2 separate regions of the Homo sapiens genome follow, and region 2 is linked to region 1. A link means that fine-mapping ties the variant in region 1 to the expression of a gene that starts in the linked region. Tissue or cell type: subcutaneous fat. Region 1 holds a variant in brackets; the other region holds the start of a gene. All regions are shown on one strand. Distances are from middle to middle.

Region 1 (8,535 bases):
TTGTATTTTTAGTAGAGATGGGGTTTCTCCGTGTTGGTCAGGCTGGTCTCGAACTCCCGACCTCAGGTGATCCACCTGCCTCAGCCTCTCAAAGTGCTGTGATTACAGGCATGAGCCACCATGCCCGGCCATGAAATTGTTTTAATTTCAATTTTGGGTGGTTAAATGCTAGGGTATAAAAAGTACAGTGAATTTTGTATATTTATCTTGCATTCTGCAACCTTTCTAAACTCATTTACTATCTCTAATAGTGTGTGTTTGTGGTGCTGGGAGAAGGATCTTAGGATTTTCTACATATAAGATGTCATCTGCAAATAGAGGTAGTTTTACTTCTTCCTTTCAGTTCTGGATGCCTTTTATTTATTTATCTTGCCTAATTACCCTGAATAGATCTTCCAGTACAATGTTCAATAGAAGTGGTGGGAATGAACATCTTTGCCTGCTTCTAATCTTAAGGGGAAAGCATTCAGTTTTCTACCCATTAAGTATGATGTTAGCTGTGGGTGTTTTGTAGATGCCCTTTATCAAGTTGAGGAAGTTCACATCTACCCTTCACTTGTTGACTGCTCTATTTTAATTATGAAAGGTGTTAGATTTTGTCAAAAGCATTTTCTGCAATTATTCAGATGATCATGTGGTTTTATCCTTTATACTACATTTATTAACTTTAGATGTTAAATCAAACTTGTATTCCTGGGATAAAATCTGAACTGGTTATGGTGTGTGATCCTTTTTATATGTTCTAGATTCCATTTGCTAGTAATTTTGTTAAAATAAGATTTTTGAATCTGGATTATACTGGTCTCATAGAATGAGCTATGTTTTTTCTCCTATTCTCTTTTCTGAAAGAGTTTGTAAAGAATTGGTATCAATTCTTTAAATGTTTGGCAGAATAGATCAGTGAAGCCATCTAATTCTGAGCTTTTAATTGTAAGAAGATTTTCAACTGCTAATTCAATCTCTTTCCTTTTTATAGATTTATTCCAATTTTCTTCGTCTTGAGTCAGTTTTGGTAGTTTGTATCTTTGTAAGGATTGGTTTATTTCATCTAGGTTATCTAATTTGTTGGCGTAAAGTTGTTCATAGTTTTTTCTTGTAATCCATATTTTCTCGGTAAATTTAACTAAAAGTTTAAGAATTGCATTAATCTTTTCAAAAAACCTAGTTTTAGCTTTATTTTTATTTTTTTGTCCTCTGTTTCGTTTATTTCCATGCTTATCTTTGCTACTTCCTTTTTTCTCCTTGCTTTGGATTTAGTTTGCTCTGCTGCTTTTAGTGTCTCAAGGTGGAAGATTAGGTTATTGATTTGACATTTTTCTTCTTTTTAAGAAGTGGGGTCTCACTGTGTTGCCCAGGCTAGAGTGCAGTGGCTATTCACAGGCATGAAAATAGTGCACTATGGCCTCTCACTCCTGGGCTCAAATGATTCTCTTGCTTCAGCCTCTCAAGTAGCTGGGACTACAGGAATGTACCACTCCCCCTGGCTTCTTCCCTTCTTTTTAAGGCATTTGAAGCTGTAAATCTCCCTCTAAGCATTGCTTTCACTGCATGCCATATGTTTTAATTTGTCATGTTTTGTTTTCATTGATCTTGAATTATTTTCTCATTTTCTCTGTGATTTCTTCTTTGACTCATTGGTACTTGGAAATATGTTGTTTAATTTTGACAAATTTGTGAATTCCCTACATTTCTGTTATTGATTTCTAATTTCATTCCATTGTAGTTACAAAAAATACTTCGAATGATTCCAATCTTTTAAAAGGTATTAATACTTGCTTTATGGCCTAACATATGTCTATACTGGAGAATGTTCCATGTGTGCTTGAAAAGATATGTGCTCTGCTGTTTTGGCATGGTGTATTCTAGAGAGGTTCGTTAGGTCTAGTTGGTTTAGTGCTGTTCAAGTCTTTCATTCTCTTGTTTATCTCTGTGTATGTCTTCTTGCCAGTATTGAAAGTGGGATGTTGAATTATCCAACTATTATTGTTGTTGAAATGTCTATTTCTTTCCTCACTTTTATCAGTATTTGCTTAATACACTTTTAAAGTCTATTTTGGGGTACATATATGTTTATAATTTTTATACCTTTTTGGTGTATTGATTTATAATACTTATCAAATATCCTTGTTTTCTACTGATAATTTTTGTCTTAAGGTTTATTGTATCTGATATTGGTATAGTGGTTCCAGTTTTCTTTTGGTTACTGTTTGCATGGTATATCTTTTTCCATCCTTTTACTGCCAACTTATTTGTGTACTTAAATCTAAATGTGTCTTTTGTAAGAAACACAGAAATCATTTTTAAAAATGTCTTCTGCCAATCTCTGCCTCTTAATTGAAGTGTTTATTTACATTTAATGTAATTACTGATAAGGCAGAGCTTATTTCTACCATTCTGCTATTTGTTTTCTATATGTCTTATGCCTTTTTGATTTCTACTCCTCCATTACTGACTTCTTTTAATTCCCCTGTTGCTTATTTTATCATATTTTAAAACTTATTTTCTTAGTAGTAGCCCTGGGGATTACAATTAACACCTTAACTTTTAAAACTCTAGTTTAAATTAATGCTAACTTAATTCAAAAATATACAAAAACTTTGCTCCTGTATGGTTCCGTTTCTTCTCCCCCCTTGTGCTGTTACTGTCATATAAATTACACCTTTTTTTACATTGTTTGCCTATCATTACAGATTTTATAATTATTGTTTAATGCACTTATCTTTTAAATTAGTTAAGAGGAAAAAGTTACAAAAATATACTTACACTGTGTTTTTTATTTACCTATGTAGTTACCTTTACTGATTGTAGAGGGGCAAATGGTGGCCGCCTACAAATATGTCCATGTCTCAAACCCCAAAACCTATGAAAATGTTACCTTATTTGAAAAAGAAAAAACAAAAGATCTTTGAAGATGTAAGACAGTTAAGGATTTTGAGATGAGATCATCCAGGTGGGCCCTAAATCTAACAAGTGTCCTTATAATACACACACACAGGAGAAGACAGACGCAGAGGAAAGGGTGATGTGAAGACAAGGCAGAGATTGGATTGATGTAACTATAAGCCCAGGAATTCTGGGCAAGCCATAAGAAACTGGAAGAGGCAAGGAATGGGTTCTTCCCTTGAGCCCTGGAAAAAATGTGTCCCTGCCAGATTTTGAATTTCTAGCCTCTAGAACTGTGAGAGAATAAATCTCTGTTGTTTTAAGCCACCCAGTTTGTAGTAATTTGTTACAGCAGCCCTCAGAAACTAACACACCAGTGCTTTTTATTTTTCATGTGGATTTGAGTTATTGCTTACTGTCCTCTCATTTCAGTCTGCATTAATCCCTTTAGTATTTTTTTGTAGGGCAGATTTTAAAGCAATGAATTCTCTCAGGATATGTTTATACAGGAATGTCTTATTTTCTCATTCATTTTTGAAGGATAGTTTTTCTAGATATGGAATTCTTGATTCACAATCTTTTTCTCTCAGCACTTTGAATATATCATCCCACTGCCTTCTGGCCTCCGTGATTTCTGGTGAGAAATCACGTGTTAATCTTATTTAGAATTCCTTGTGTGTGATGAGTCACTTCTCTTTTGCTGCTTTAAAGATTCAACACAGTTTGATTATCATGTATCTAGGTATGGATTTCTTTGGTTTTATTTTATTTGGAGTTATTTTAGGTCTTGGGTGCATAGACAAATATTTTTCATCAAACTTGAACTGTTTTTGGCCATTATTTCTTCAAATATTCTTTATCCCTCTTTCCCACCTCTCTTTTGAGACTCCCATTATGCATATGTTTGTATGACTGATGGTGTCCTACAGGTCTCTAAAAACTGTTCACTTTTCTTCATTCTTTTTTCTTTATGTTCCTTAGATTGGATAATCTCAATCTATCAAGTTCACTGATTGTTTCATCTGCCTGCTCAAGTTTGCTGTTGAGCCACTCTAGTGGATTTTTATTTCAGTTTCTATATTTTCAACTCTAGAATTTCTATTTGGTTCTCTCTTCTTAAACAAAATTTGATCTCTTTATTGATATTTCTATTTGTCAAAACATCAGTCAATCAGTCATACTTTCTTTCTTTTTTTTTTCTTTTTTTTCTTTTTCTTAAACAGCATCTCATTCTGTCGTCAGGCTGGAGTACGGTGGTGTGATCTCAGCTCACTGCAATCTCCACCTCCCAAATTAAAGTGATTCTCCTGCCTCAGCCTCCCAAGTAGCTGGGATTACAGGTGTGCACCACCACACCCAGCTAATTTTTGTATTTTTAGTAGAGACAGGGTTTCACCATATTGGCCCAGATGGTCTCAATCTCCTGACCTCGTGATCCACCTGCCTCAGCCTCCCAAAGTGCTGGGATTACAGACATGAGCCACCATGTCTGGCCTTTTTCATTCTTTAGACATTGCTTGCTTTGCTTCTTTGCTTTGCTTTGCTTCTTTGCCCATAAATCTTTTTTTTCTTTTTTTTTTTTTTTTTT[G/TG]AGGCAGAGTCTCAATCTGTTATCCAGGCTGGAGTGCAGTGGTACAATCACAGCTCACTGCAGCCTTGACCTCCCAGGCTCAAGTGATCCTCCCACCTTAGCCTCTTGAATAACTGGGACCACAGGCACATACCACCACATCCAGCTAATTAAAACAAATTTTTTTTTGTAGAGATGGGATCTCACTATATTGCTTAGGCTGGTCTCAAACTGGAACTCCAGGGCCCAAGTTATCCTCCTGCCTTGGCCTTCCACATTTCTGGGATTACAGGCATGAGCCACCATGCCCAGTCTTAAAATCTTTATCTACTAAGTCCAACATCCAGGCTTCCTTGGGAACAGTTTCTATTGGAGTTATTTTTATTTTCCTCTCTATGGTCCATGTATTCTTCTTTGCATATCTCATAACTTTTTATTGAAAAATTGACATTTTAAATAATATAATGTGGCAATTCTGAAAATGAGATTCTTCTTCCTTCTCCAAGTTGTTTAGTGACTTTTTAAAACCAATGCTGTAAAGGCTGTATTCTTTGTCATATATAGCTACTGATGTCTCTGCTCAGTTAGCTTAGTAGTCAGCTAATGACTAGACAGAGATTTAAAGCTCTGGAACCAATAAGTCTGCCACTTTTTGCAGAAGGGATCTGGGTGTGTGTTGGGGCATGCCTTCAACATTCAATTGGGTAATTGGCAATTCTGCCTTATCCTTCACTTCCTGCTTGTTCCATCTCAAAACTGGCCAGATGTGAGAGCTTGGGACCTACTCAGTTTGCTTATTATTTTTTTAATCTCACCATCTAGAAGTAATATCAAGTTTTTCTTCAGCATGTACACAGCCCTATTCATGCAGGTGGCCTTGTAGATTCCTAAGAATATGTCAGGGCTTTTCAAAGGCCCTGTGGATATCTCATTGCCCAGTTTTCCTTTTAAGCTTTCTGTTTAGCCTATTGTCTACCCCAACTGTTACTGACTGCCTGAGGCAGTCACAAAGTCAATCAATTGCTTTTAATTGTTTTCAACAAATGCCCCTGTGATAAGTATTTTTCTACACTTGAGTTCCTGATTCAGATTTTAAAAAAGCCATGCAAATAGAAACTTCCAGGGACTCTTCAGACAGGTAAAATAATGACAATTCTCTGTGAAGGGGGCTTTAATAGTTCACCAACCCCCTTCTGCTCTTTTATTGACTGCCAGGCTGCTGGTTTGTATGACTAAGGGCTGATGGTTTTCAAAGCTTCTGCAGAAATGAAGAAGGGGGAATGGGAATAGGGCAAATGAAAATGGCACCATGATTGCTATTTTTACCCGATTCAGCCATCTTTTTAGAATTAATGCTCTCCTTGTGGTAGGCCAGGTCTCACTAATGCAGGCCTCCATAACAACTGTTTCAGTACTGAGTGGTTAAGTTAAATATTAAAAGCTAGTGCCCTTATACAAAGGCTGGGATGTAACAAAAGCCCATCAAGAGTTTTGCCTAGACCTTTCCTGGGCCTTAAAGCATAACAAAATAACAAAGGAATTCTTAACAGGACCCATTTAAGAACAAGTTTTATTGGGGGTCTGAAGAAACTGCCCAGGCCTCCACAAACAAGTTTATTGGGGGTCTGAAGGAATCCCCAAACTTCCATGATTTAGCAGGAGACAAGATAAGGGTAATCACTCCAGTACCTGGACCCATTTAGATTAAGTAAATTTACTGAGGCTCCAGAGGAAGGTATTCAGGACTTAGACCTTAGTTATATGTTAAAAAAGTTAATCACTTAAGTCTTTAGATGAATGCACACTTACACATAGACATATAGCTTAGGAGGTATATAAGCTCTGGAAAACTTTGTAATTTTGGGTTGGTCTGGTGATAATTTCCAGGCCTTCTCCCTATAACCAGTTGCAGAAATAAAAACTCTCTTCCTCCCCCAGTTCATCTGCATCTCGTTATTGGGCCACAAGAAATAGCAGCCTGACCTTCAGTTTGGTCCGAGAACACTCCTGATTGCTGCAAGCCTTTGGTTAATTTCACAGTTCTAAAAAAATTGATTGAGACCATTTTTGCAAATTTGCTCATTGTTTTTATACAGAAGATAATTTTTGGAGATTCTTACTCCATCATTTTTGCTGATGTCTTCCTAATGTATCATTTTTATGATTTTTTTACTTGAAAAATATTACTCCTTAAAGAGTACTCAGATAGGCTGGGTGCAGTGGCTCATGCCTGTAACCCCAGCACTTTGGGAGGCCAAGGCGGGCGGATCACGAGGTCAGGAGATCGAGACCATCCTGGCTAACATGGTGAAACCCTGTCTCTACTAAAAAAAAAAAAAAATACAAAAAATTAGCTGGGTGTGGTGGCAGGCACCTGTAGTCCCAGCTACTCAGGAGGCTGAGGCAGGAAAATGGCATGAACCTGAGAGGTGGAGCATGCGGTGAGCTGAGATTGTGCCACTGCACTCCAGCCTGGGCAACAGAGCGAGACTCCGTCTCAAAAAAAAAAAAAAAAAAAAAAAAAAGAAGAGTACTCAGAGTACTCAGATAATAGGGTAATGGAGTCAGTATCTACATGATATTTGGTACTTACCTAGTTCCTGGAAAACATATCACACTAGTCACCAAATCATCAGAACACTGGGTTTCCTCCTATGGACAGAAGTTTGTTAGTTTTCTCTTCTTTATTAGAAATTTTTATTTTTATTAAAATACATGGTTGTCAGAAGCATTCATTTGAACCAGAGTGACTTCATCTTGAGTGAGGGCTAGAAAAAATGAGGCTAAGACTTGTTGGGCTGCATTCCCCGGAAGTTAGGTATTCCTAGCCTCTAGATGTTTACGGTTAAGGAAACAGATTGATAACGTTTACTAAACAGACCCAGACTCAGGAATGGTCCTAACATCCCGTTATCTCTAGCACAGAAGCATTCCTAATTTTGCTTTAATAATATCGATTCTTGAAAAATATAGTAATTAAGAAAATTAATCCTTTATCACAAACCCTTGTAGTAGAGTGCATCTCCCCATGATTTTGTTGTTGTTGTTGTTATCCTATATATAAACAAGCATTTATATATATATCCTATATATAAACAAGCATTTATATATGTATCCTATATATAAACAAGCATTTATATATATATCCTATATATAAACAAGCATTTATATATATATCCTATATATAAACAAGCATTTATATATATATCCTATATATAAACAAGCATTTATATATATATCCTATATATAAACAAGCATTTATATATATATCCTATATATAAACAAGGTGGGTGCTTTTCTCCTCTTTCAGAAATGCCCTACTCTGTCTATGGAGTAGCTATTCTTTCACCACTTTATTTTCTTAACAAACTTGCTTTCATGTTGCACTGTGGACTTGTTCCAAATTCTTTCTTGCACGAGATCCAAGAACACTCTCTTCAGGTCTGGATCAGGTCCCCTTTCCAGTAACATGGTCATTCACACATGACAAGGGATTTATCAAGACATTTCAACCACTGCAATGTATTTTGATACTTATTAGACAAATGAAAATGGAAAAAAATTGTGATAATTAGCAGGGGGTTTTGGAACATTGAATATTTAATGACATTAAGAAATTATTGTTAATTTTTGTTGGTGGGAAAGTAGCATAGCAATTATATATTTTAAGGAGTCCTTGTGTTTTAGAGATGCATGCTGAAATATTTACAGATGAAACTATATGACATCTAGGATTTGCTTAAAAATAATCTGAGTAAATGGGGGAAGTGGGTGGGATGAAACAAGACTAGCTATGAGTTGATAATTGTCTAAACTGGTTGGTATGTACAAAGGGGTTCATTATAATATTCTAGCTTTTGTCAACCTAAAAGAATCAAAATGGTCAGAATCTAATTTACGGAGAGTGCAAAGCGTGAGGATGGCCCACCTGAAAACACCAACTCCAAAGGAATGGAGTCAGTGTTCTGAAGTAGGGAAGTTAAGGTGTCAGTTATACAGGCAGAGACAGAGGAATTTTTAGCAGGATTACAACATTTTTCATACAAGACTGGCACATAGTTACAGCAATTTGATTGGTTATAGGG
Region 2 (8,000 bases), 23 kb after region 1:
GTCAAAAGTGATACCTTTGTTGTTTTCTGCCCCTTGTTTCAGTTTCAAAACTCTGCTTCAGCAAGATGTGAAAAAAAGAAGAAGCTATGGAAACTCATCTGATTCCAGATATGATGATGGAAGAGGGTACAGCTTTTTAAATTGATAATAGTTGTTTTTATGTCTTTGTATACCTTTATTAGATATTTTAGGTAGATAGAGTTAGACTTTTGGAAATTAAAAGTTTAAATCCTATTTTACAAAATTAATGCATTACTGTAAATTAAAAGTCAAATTGCTTCTGATTTGATAATAATCAGTTAATCTGACAAAGCTAAAATATACATGAAATATCCCATGGAAAAAGTCTAAATTAGAGGGTGAAAACTGATGGCCACCATTAAAATCTAAAGATTTCATTTTAACATCTGGATTTCTAGTTGCTAATTAAAAACTTAGAAGATCGCCAGGCACGGTGGCTTGAGCCTGTAATCCCAGCACTTTGGGAGGCTGAGGCGGGTGGATCACGAGGTCAAGAGATCGAGACCATCCTGACCAACATGATGAAACCCCGTCTCTACTAAAATACAAAAATTAGCTGGGTGTGGTGGTATGCGCCTGTAGTCCCAGCTACTCAGGAGGCTGAGGCAGGAGAATTGTTTGAACCCAGGAGGTAGAGGTTGCAGTGAGCTGAGATCGTGCCACTGCACTCCAGCCTGGAGACAGAGTGGGACTCCATCTCAAAAAAAAAGCCGTAAAGATCAAGATCAAGTAGCACTGGGCTAGGCTTATGTTTCTACCTGGCAAAAATCAGCTGGAGCTGGGTTTCAGTGGGGCATTACTGGAGGTGCTATTCAGTTCATCACAGTCCTTTCTTGACTCAGTTCCTTGTGTGCATTATGTGTCTGGTCCCTTTAAGTGTTTTAATTTTTGCCTCCTGACCTAAAATGGTAGTTTCTATTTTAAATTGTGTTTTAGGGTCATGTGGGTGCTGAAAAAGAAAAGGGTCTAGTTGAGTGCTTTTAAAAGGAGACAATTCAAGTTGTGTCTATCAAACAGTAGATACTAACTTTTTATTTTATTAGGCCACCAGGAAACCCTCCCCGAAGAATGGGTAGAATCAATCATCTGCGTGGCCCTAGTCCCCCTCCAATGGCTGGTGGATGAGGAAGGTAACTTCAGATCTGAAATTCTTTTGTAGGATTTTGTTTTGAAAACACTTCTGTAGTAATGTTTTCTTTAAGAAGTTGCCCAGCAGCTTATAATTACTCAGACATTATTTGGAAATATATTTGTTATCTTAACCCTTGAAAAATTCACTGGCCTTGTTATCAAAATGTCTTTTGAGAAAGATTTTATAACATGTAATATGTTGAGGTTTTCACACAGATCCAAATTAATAACCAGTAACTAATTATTGTAACATTTTCTTTCAGGTAAATGTCTGCTCTAAGAAGCAGACAACCGGACATGCGCATTCATAGCAGAAGGAAACCATCAAGAAGTGGAAGGCTGACCATGATGAGCAGTAGATGAATGTGTATGTCTAAACAAGGACTGCTCTGTGTCCTCACAGATGAATGAGGTCATGCTGGGAATTCCCTCTGCAGGGAACTGGCCTGACTGACATGCAGTTCCATAAATGCAGATGTTTGTCTCATTACCTTTTTGTATAGTTTATTAAAGTATTAATATAGTTTTAATAAGTAAATATTTTTAGGTTGCAGAATGGACTCCTCATCTTTATATTCACGAAAAAGCAATCTGAAGAAAACAAATAAAAGCCTGTGTATTTAGCACTGTTAGTGTCACCTTTTCAACTTCTGAAACACTGTTCATTGTTAACTTTTTCTCATTTATAAATCACTGTATTTATTTTAGTAGTATGCATAGCATATCTGTGCTCTTGAATTAATTTTTATCTTTAACATATTTGTCTCATCAATCTTTAATACACTGTGTCTAATTTGCTACCAAATGTAATTATCAGGGTATTTATAAAACCATAGCTAACAAAACTGAGCTACAAAATGAAAATTTACTAAATAGTTTTTAAAATCATGGACTTCAGCCTGGCGCGGTGGCTCATGCCTGTAATCCCAGCACTGTGGGAGGCTGAGGCGGGCAGATCGCCTAAGTTCACGAGTTTGAGACCAGCCTGCAGCATGACGAAACCTAAAATAACAAAAATTAGCCAGGCGTGGTAGAGTGCACCTGTAATCCCTGCTACTCAGGAGGCGGAGGCAGGAGAATCGCTTCAACCCGGGAGGCGGAGGTTGCTGTGAGCATGCCACTGCACTCCTGCCTAGGCAACAGAGTGAGACCCTGTCTCAAAAAAATAAATAAAACCATGGGCTTCCATGCTATCTTGACAAATTTGCACTCTATAGCATCACTCAAAATACTGCCTATTGGCTTTAAACTCCATCTGAATACTGATAACTTTCACATTCTTTCACTAGAGTGGAAGCTCTGAGACTAGGAATTTTGTTGTCTTTACCCCAGTCCTTTGAATAGTGACTACATGTAAGATAGTCATGTAGTATTTATTGGAAATAAATATTTATTGGAAAAACGAAAACAGATAATTCCTCTTCTGGTGTTTAACAGGCTTTGAAACCAAGTGTTCAGGTGAAAGCCTTTTTATATTGATTTATCAGCATTTATTCAACCCCGTTTGTCGGGAAATGGGATGTTGTGGCATAAGATACCAATATTCAGGATAAAGAAGCAATTACAATGCAGGTTTCAGGATAAGGATAACAGTTTGCTGGCCACCTCAATTATGTGTCAGATTTTATTTATTTTTTAATTTTTATTTTATTTTTATTTTTTATTTTTATTTTTGAGACAGGGTCTCACTCTTATCCAGGCTGGAGTACAGTGGCTGCTCACTGCAGCCTTGACCTTTTGGGCTAAAGTGATCTCCCACTATGGCCTCCCTAAACGCTGGGATTACACGTGTGAGCCACAATGCCCAGCCTGTAAATTTTTACACATTTTAAATTCTGACAAAGTGAGGGATATGTATAATGTATACATATATACAAAGTGAGGTAAATGTATAATGACATTTGCATTATACAGATACATGCAAGGGTTCAGTAAAGTTTGGCAGCTTCCTAGATTGTATTGCCAGTGAATGGCAGAGGCATTATTAAACCTCCACCTTACCCTATAGCGGGGAGACCATGGCAGAGTCTCAGTAGGTGGTTGATTGTTGTTACTGATGGCTCTTCCTGAGCATGTGAACCATGGTCCTCTTCTGCCTCCTAGCACTGCTGCTGCAGGACTTGTTCCTCGGGTCTTATCCCAGAGTTCTGGCTGCATTTGACATTCAGGTATTCTTCTTTGCACTTCAGATAGAATGTAAAACACAGGTTCTTGAGTACTTTATGCTTAACTCTTGTCTTTGCTACTCAATAGCTTATGATCTTGAGTGAATTATGCCATTTTATCCCACTTCACTCACCTGTAAAACGGGGATTAAATTTTTACCTCCAAGAGTTCTTTATTTAGTATTTAGTCATCACATGCTTATTGGGCACCTACCATGTGCTGAAGATAACTGGCAAAGTCTCACGGAGCTTACATTCTAGTGTGGGAGACAGTGAGCAGGCATGATAATTACAGACTAATGCTTCATGCTTCAAAGGGAATAGGATGATGAGAGAATAACTGCGGAAGGCCTGAGGTGACATTTGAGTTCAGACGTGAGAATGAGACAGCTGAGGGAAGAGCATCCAAGGCAAAATGAACAGCAAGTGCAACAGCCCGATGACGGGAAGGGCTTGGCATGTCTGAGAAAGATAAAACAGGTGTAGCTGGAAATGCCAAGGAATGGGGAGAGTGTTGTGAGGTGAACTTAGAAATGTAGCAATAACTAGATATGGTCTTTAGGTGGTGGTTAGTTTAGATTCTGTTCTTTGAGCAAAGGGAAACCATTAGAGTTTAAAGCATGAGTGACATCTAATTTTTGAGGTAAGTCTTAGTGGAGTGCTGGGTACATAGTAGTATTAACTACGTAATATTTTAAAACAACGTGGGCAACTATATAAGAACAGATCATAGGGGGACAGGACAAGGAGTTCGAGTTAAGAGGCTGTTGTAGTCATCCAGGTGAGATGATAGTGGCTTGGGCTAGGTAGTGGCATGGGAATGGAGAAGTGGATGAATTCAAGATCTATTTTAGAGACTGCAGGATTTACTGATGGATTGGATGTAGAAGCTGTCAACAAGTGAAGAATCAAAATGACATTTACTGAGATGGTGAAAGTGAGAGGGGAGGGAATCAAGAGTTAAATTTTGGACATATTTAAGTTTGCAGTGCCTTGTAGACAATCCAGATGGAGAGACCAAGTAGGCACTGGTTATCAGTACGGATCTCTCTGAGCGGTTCATCCTGGATATATATATTTGGGAATCGTATTCATTGCTAAAGCCAGGAAACTGGATAGTCACCCAAGGAGTGTGCCTGGAAAAGACCTAACCCCAACATCAGAGGCTGGACTGAACATGAAGACATATGAGAAAAACTAAGAGTACATATGGTATCTGGGAAGCCAGGAGAAGAGATGCCTGTGAGGACGAAATAAGATGCGGGTTATCAGCCGACCCCCACTAGGCGCTCGAAAAGCTATGTGTACTATGTTGCTGGCATCTACACAGTCAGGACTAATCACAGCAACACCCACCCAATCAATCCGCATGCACACCCCGCCCCCAGCCCCTGCGCCGGGCAGCCCCACCCCCGCCTTTTCGGAGCCCTCTGGGGCGACTCCGCGGCGGCCATCTTGACTGTGGGCAGCCGGCCGTGCGCCTGCGCGGTGGCCCTTCCATCCCGGCAGTCGTGGCTGCAGCGCTGAGGCGAGAGGTTGGTGGGTGTCTCCGGCCATAATGACCCAGGCTGAGAAGGGTGATACGGAGAACGGAAAGGAGAAGGGCGGCGAGAAGGAGAAGGAGCAGCGCGGCGTGAAGCGGCCCATCGTGCCCGCGCTGGTGCCGGAGTCGCTGCAAGAGGTGCGGCTCTGGCTGGGTTGGAACTCTTTGCCCTTGCTTGGGTCCTCCGCTGCCAGGCAAGGGGCGGGAGGCGGCGGGAGGCTTCGAGTCCCCCTTGCAGGCCCCAGCCCCTGGTGGGGGGAGTGCGGAAGCGGTCGTTCTTTTCCGGGTGGTGGCGCGCCGGGACGCCGAGGGCTGGGAGGTGCGGAGCGCCAGGAGCCAGGCGGAGCCCCCGCAGGGACACCGCTCCGATCTCCCGCACGCCCCACCGTCTGGTTGTGTGCGCTCCTGCCCGGGCTCTGGCCTCAGCTTCCCCGACCATAAAACGACCACGGTGATAACCAGCCGCCTCGCAAGTTGCCGTGAGGGTTAAATGGTGGCAGATAGAGTTTAGGACCAGGCTGGCTCACTGGGAGCGTCAGCCTGTGCTTGTTAAGGGATAGTTTGGGGTCCAGGCTTTTTCCTTTGTTAAGGAAATCTCAGATAATGGAAGTCATTTCAAGCTTAAAAGCAAGGAAATGGTGGACATTTGTCTAAATATATATTAAGAGCTTGTGTATCAAAAACAACACTATTAGACCAAACTAAACTAACCAGAAAAAATTATTTGCAGTAGCGTGCCTGGCAGAGGACCTTAGATGTATACACATACACAAAACCTTACTGATCAGTAACTAAAACAGCATTCACGTAGGAAAACGGGCACAGGCAGTGTACAATTCACAGAAGAAATGAGGCATAAACTGCTCAGAAATTCATGTAGGACATCTCTGATCCAGCTTCCTTACCGGTAGATGGGTTAAGGATAATACCTAACTAGTAGGGCAGCTACTAGTTAGTTATCACTAGTATGACAGTGCCTGGCACACCGTAAGCCCAGAGTGGCCATTACTGTTGCACAGGCCTGGTTTCTCCATCTGTCTAGTTGAGAAGGCTGACTGGATGGTCTGTAAGGGCCTTGCCAGATCCTTCCCTCTAGGATTCTCCCACTCTGTGGGGGGTGATTAGGAGGAGAGAGGTCACACTTGGAGATAGGACAACAGGTATCAGAGCATGGCATGGAATGGGCTTGTGCAGAGGGCAGTATTGGGCACTCAAGCAAGTACCTCCTCCATCCCCGACAGTCAGGGAGGGTTTCTTCAAAGGAGGTGAGGTGACATCTGTTTAGAGTCCTGAAGGTGATTAGGAGCTAACCAGAGGGAGGAGGGAATCTCAGGGAAGAAGAACAGTGTGGAAGACACTTGTGCCAACAGAGGATGTGAAGTGTTGGAGGCCCAGCCAGTAGATTAGGATGTCTGGAGTTAAGGAAGGGGACTGAAGATCTTAGCAGGGGCCATATCATGAGGGTCGTGTAAGCCACAGAGTCTGACCTCTTGTGAAGGCAGTGGATCACGTTGAAAGGCTTTACTATAGTAAGAGCCAACATTCCTCGAATGCTTCCTGTGGCCCAGCTCTGAGTTACATGTATAACTCATTTAATTCTCACAGTAACTGTGAGTTAGGAGCTTCATTCAGAGCAAGGAAGTGGCAGTCTGAATTTGCAGACAGATCCGTGAATTCAGAGCCTGGGCCCGGATTCTATAGCAACATTTCTTCAGTCACATAAATGCTCAATAACTGTATGTTAATTTGTAGTGGACAATTTTTGTTTCATTTATTTAAACAAATATTTGTTGAGCTATGTACTATAACTCAGGTCAAGGGAACATAATAAACAATGAGTTTGTGTTTAGGTAGAGAGCGGTAATTGGATACTTCTCAAAGAACTTTATTGAATTATTTTGATACCTTTGAGTCAGCTTCTTAGTTTAGCTTGTTATGTGTATGTTGTTTAACTTTGTTACCTGCATATTATTTACAAAGTCACACATCTATGTTTTATATCTGCAGCAAATCCAGAGCAACTTCATCATTGTCATACATCCAGGTTCAACAACTTTAAGGATTGGTCGAGCCACAGACACTCTTCCTGCCAGCATTCCTCACGTCATTGCCCGAAGACACAAACAACAAGGGCAGCCCCTATACAAGGACAGTTGGCTCCTAAGGGAGGGACTAAATGTAAGTCAAAAACGACCTGGAGAGAAAGCCTAAGGTTGTTTCCCTGGGAGGGCTTAGACACAAGTACACCAGAATCTTAAAGAAACATCTTCATAGCTTTGCTGTGTTTTAAAACATTAATAATGTCACTAATTTTTCATCAGAGCTAGTGACTTTAGATGTAAAGAATTAGTTACAACAAAAGTAAGTCTTTCAGGGTGAATTGAGTGTGGATGAAGGTGATCTATAATGGAAGACACAAAATCATCACTCACAGTAATACATTCAGGTCCTTGTTAACAGGCTTAAACTTATGGATTAAGCCATATTTAAACTGTAAATATCTCTTTCAGATACTTACAGTTTAAGTCAATAAGTCAAACTCTTATTTTCAATCCATTAGCAAATTAGATTGTTACAATAAGCACTTATTATGGTCTTAGATTAACCATAATTTCAAGGCAAAAAAAAAATTTTCTTGCAGTAAGCATCTACTTTATCCTATGTTGCAGATGGTAATTATCAGGAAAATTCTTTGTGATCAATGATAAATCTATATATTACATCATAATCCACATTTTACTTTGAAGTTTTAAGTCAAGGATAGTTTTGGGAATGTAAAGTTTCTTTAATTCTGATAGTAGGCCTTAGGGTTCCATTTTTTAGTGTAACAAGCAGACTCTACGTAAGTCTAGTTGTAAGTTTAAATATAACTTGCTGATATAAGAGTCCGCACTTCATTATTTATCTTTGGATCTTATAATTCTACTTTAGGGAGTACGTTTAAGAAATAAAAATCAAAAGAAAACATTTCTGTAAAGATATTTATGGGCATTTTCTTTATACTATAATAACGAGAACCAGTAAGTTTATGGCTTAACCAAAAAGTTTAAGCCTTGCTGATCAACATATGAAGGAATGTGTCATTGTCAAAACTGTAAACATAAGAATTATATAATTGTATGGAAGAGTCTCTGAAATAT

Alleles and levels. Alleles are on the strand shown, and positions count from the first base shown. SD is a standard deviation of normalised expression in the study named.
With allele TG in place of G in region 1, the expression in subcutaneous fat of the gene that starts at base 4,825 in region 2 is lower (moderate effect, 0.60 SD a copy in TwinsUK).

The links.
Region 2: ACTR8 starts here. The variant in region 1 is fine-mapped to the expression of ACTR8 in subcutaneous fat (TwinsUK, PIP 0.95). The same link has a PIP of 0.9 or more in neural progenitor cells and skeletal muscle.

The regions. Positions count from the first base shown.
Region 1 is chr3:53,901,609-53,910,143 of GRCh38, reverse strand. No RefSeq gene overlaps it. Among named protein-coding and RNA genes, the nearest start is that of SELENOK, 14 kb to the right of the region's middle. The variant G/TG (reference allele first, on the strand shown) is at 4,472.
Region 2 is chr3:53,878,977-53,886,976 of GRCh38, reverse strand. ACTR8 (actin related protein 8) reads left to right here and starts at 4,825. Exons shown (of 13, transcript NM_022899.5): 1 at 4,825-4,998; 2 at 6,868-7,038. The coding sequence starts at 4,876. It overlaps SELENOK (selenoprotein K), which reads left to right. Exons shown (of 5, transcript NM_021237.5): 3 at 43-126; 4 at 1,065-1,151; 5 at 1,416-2,560. The coding sequence ends at 1,419. RefSeq lists silencers at 4,609-4,698, 5,089-5,198 and an enhancer at 4,859-4,938.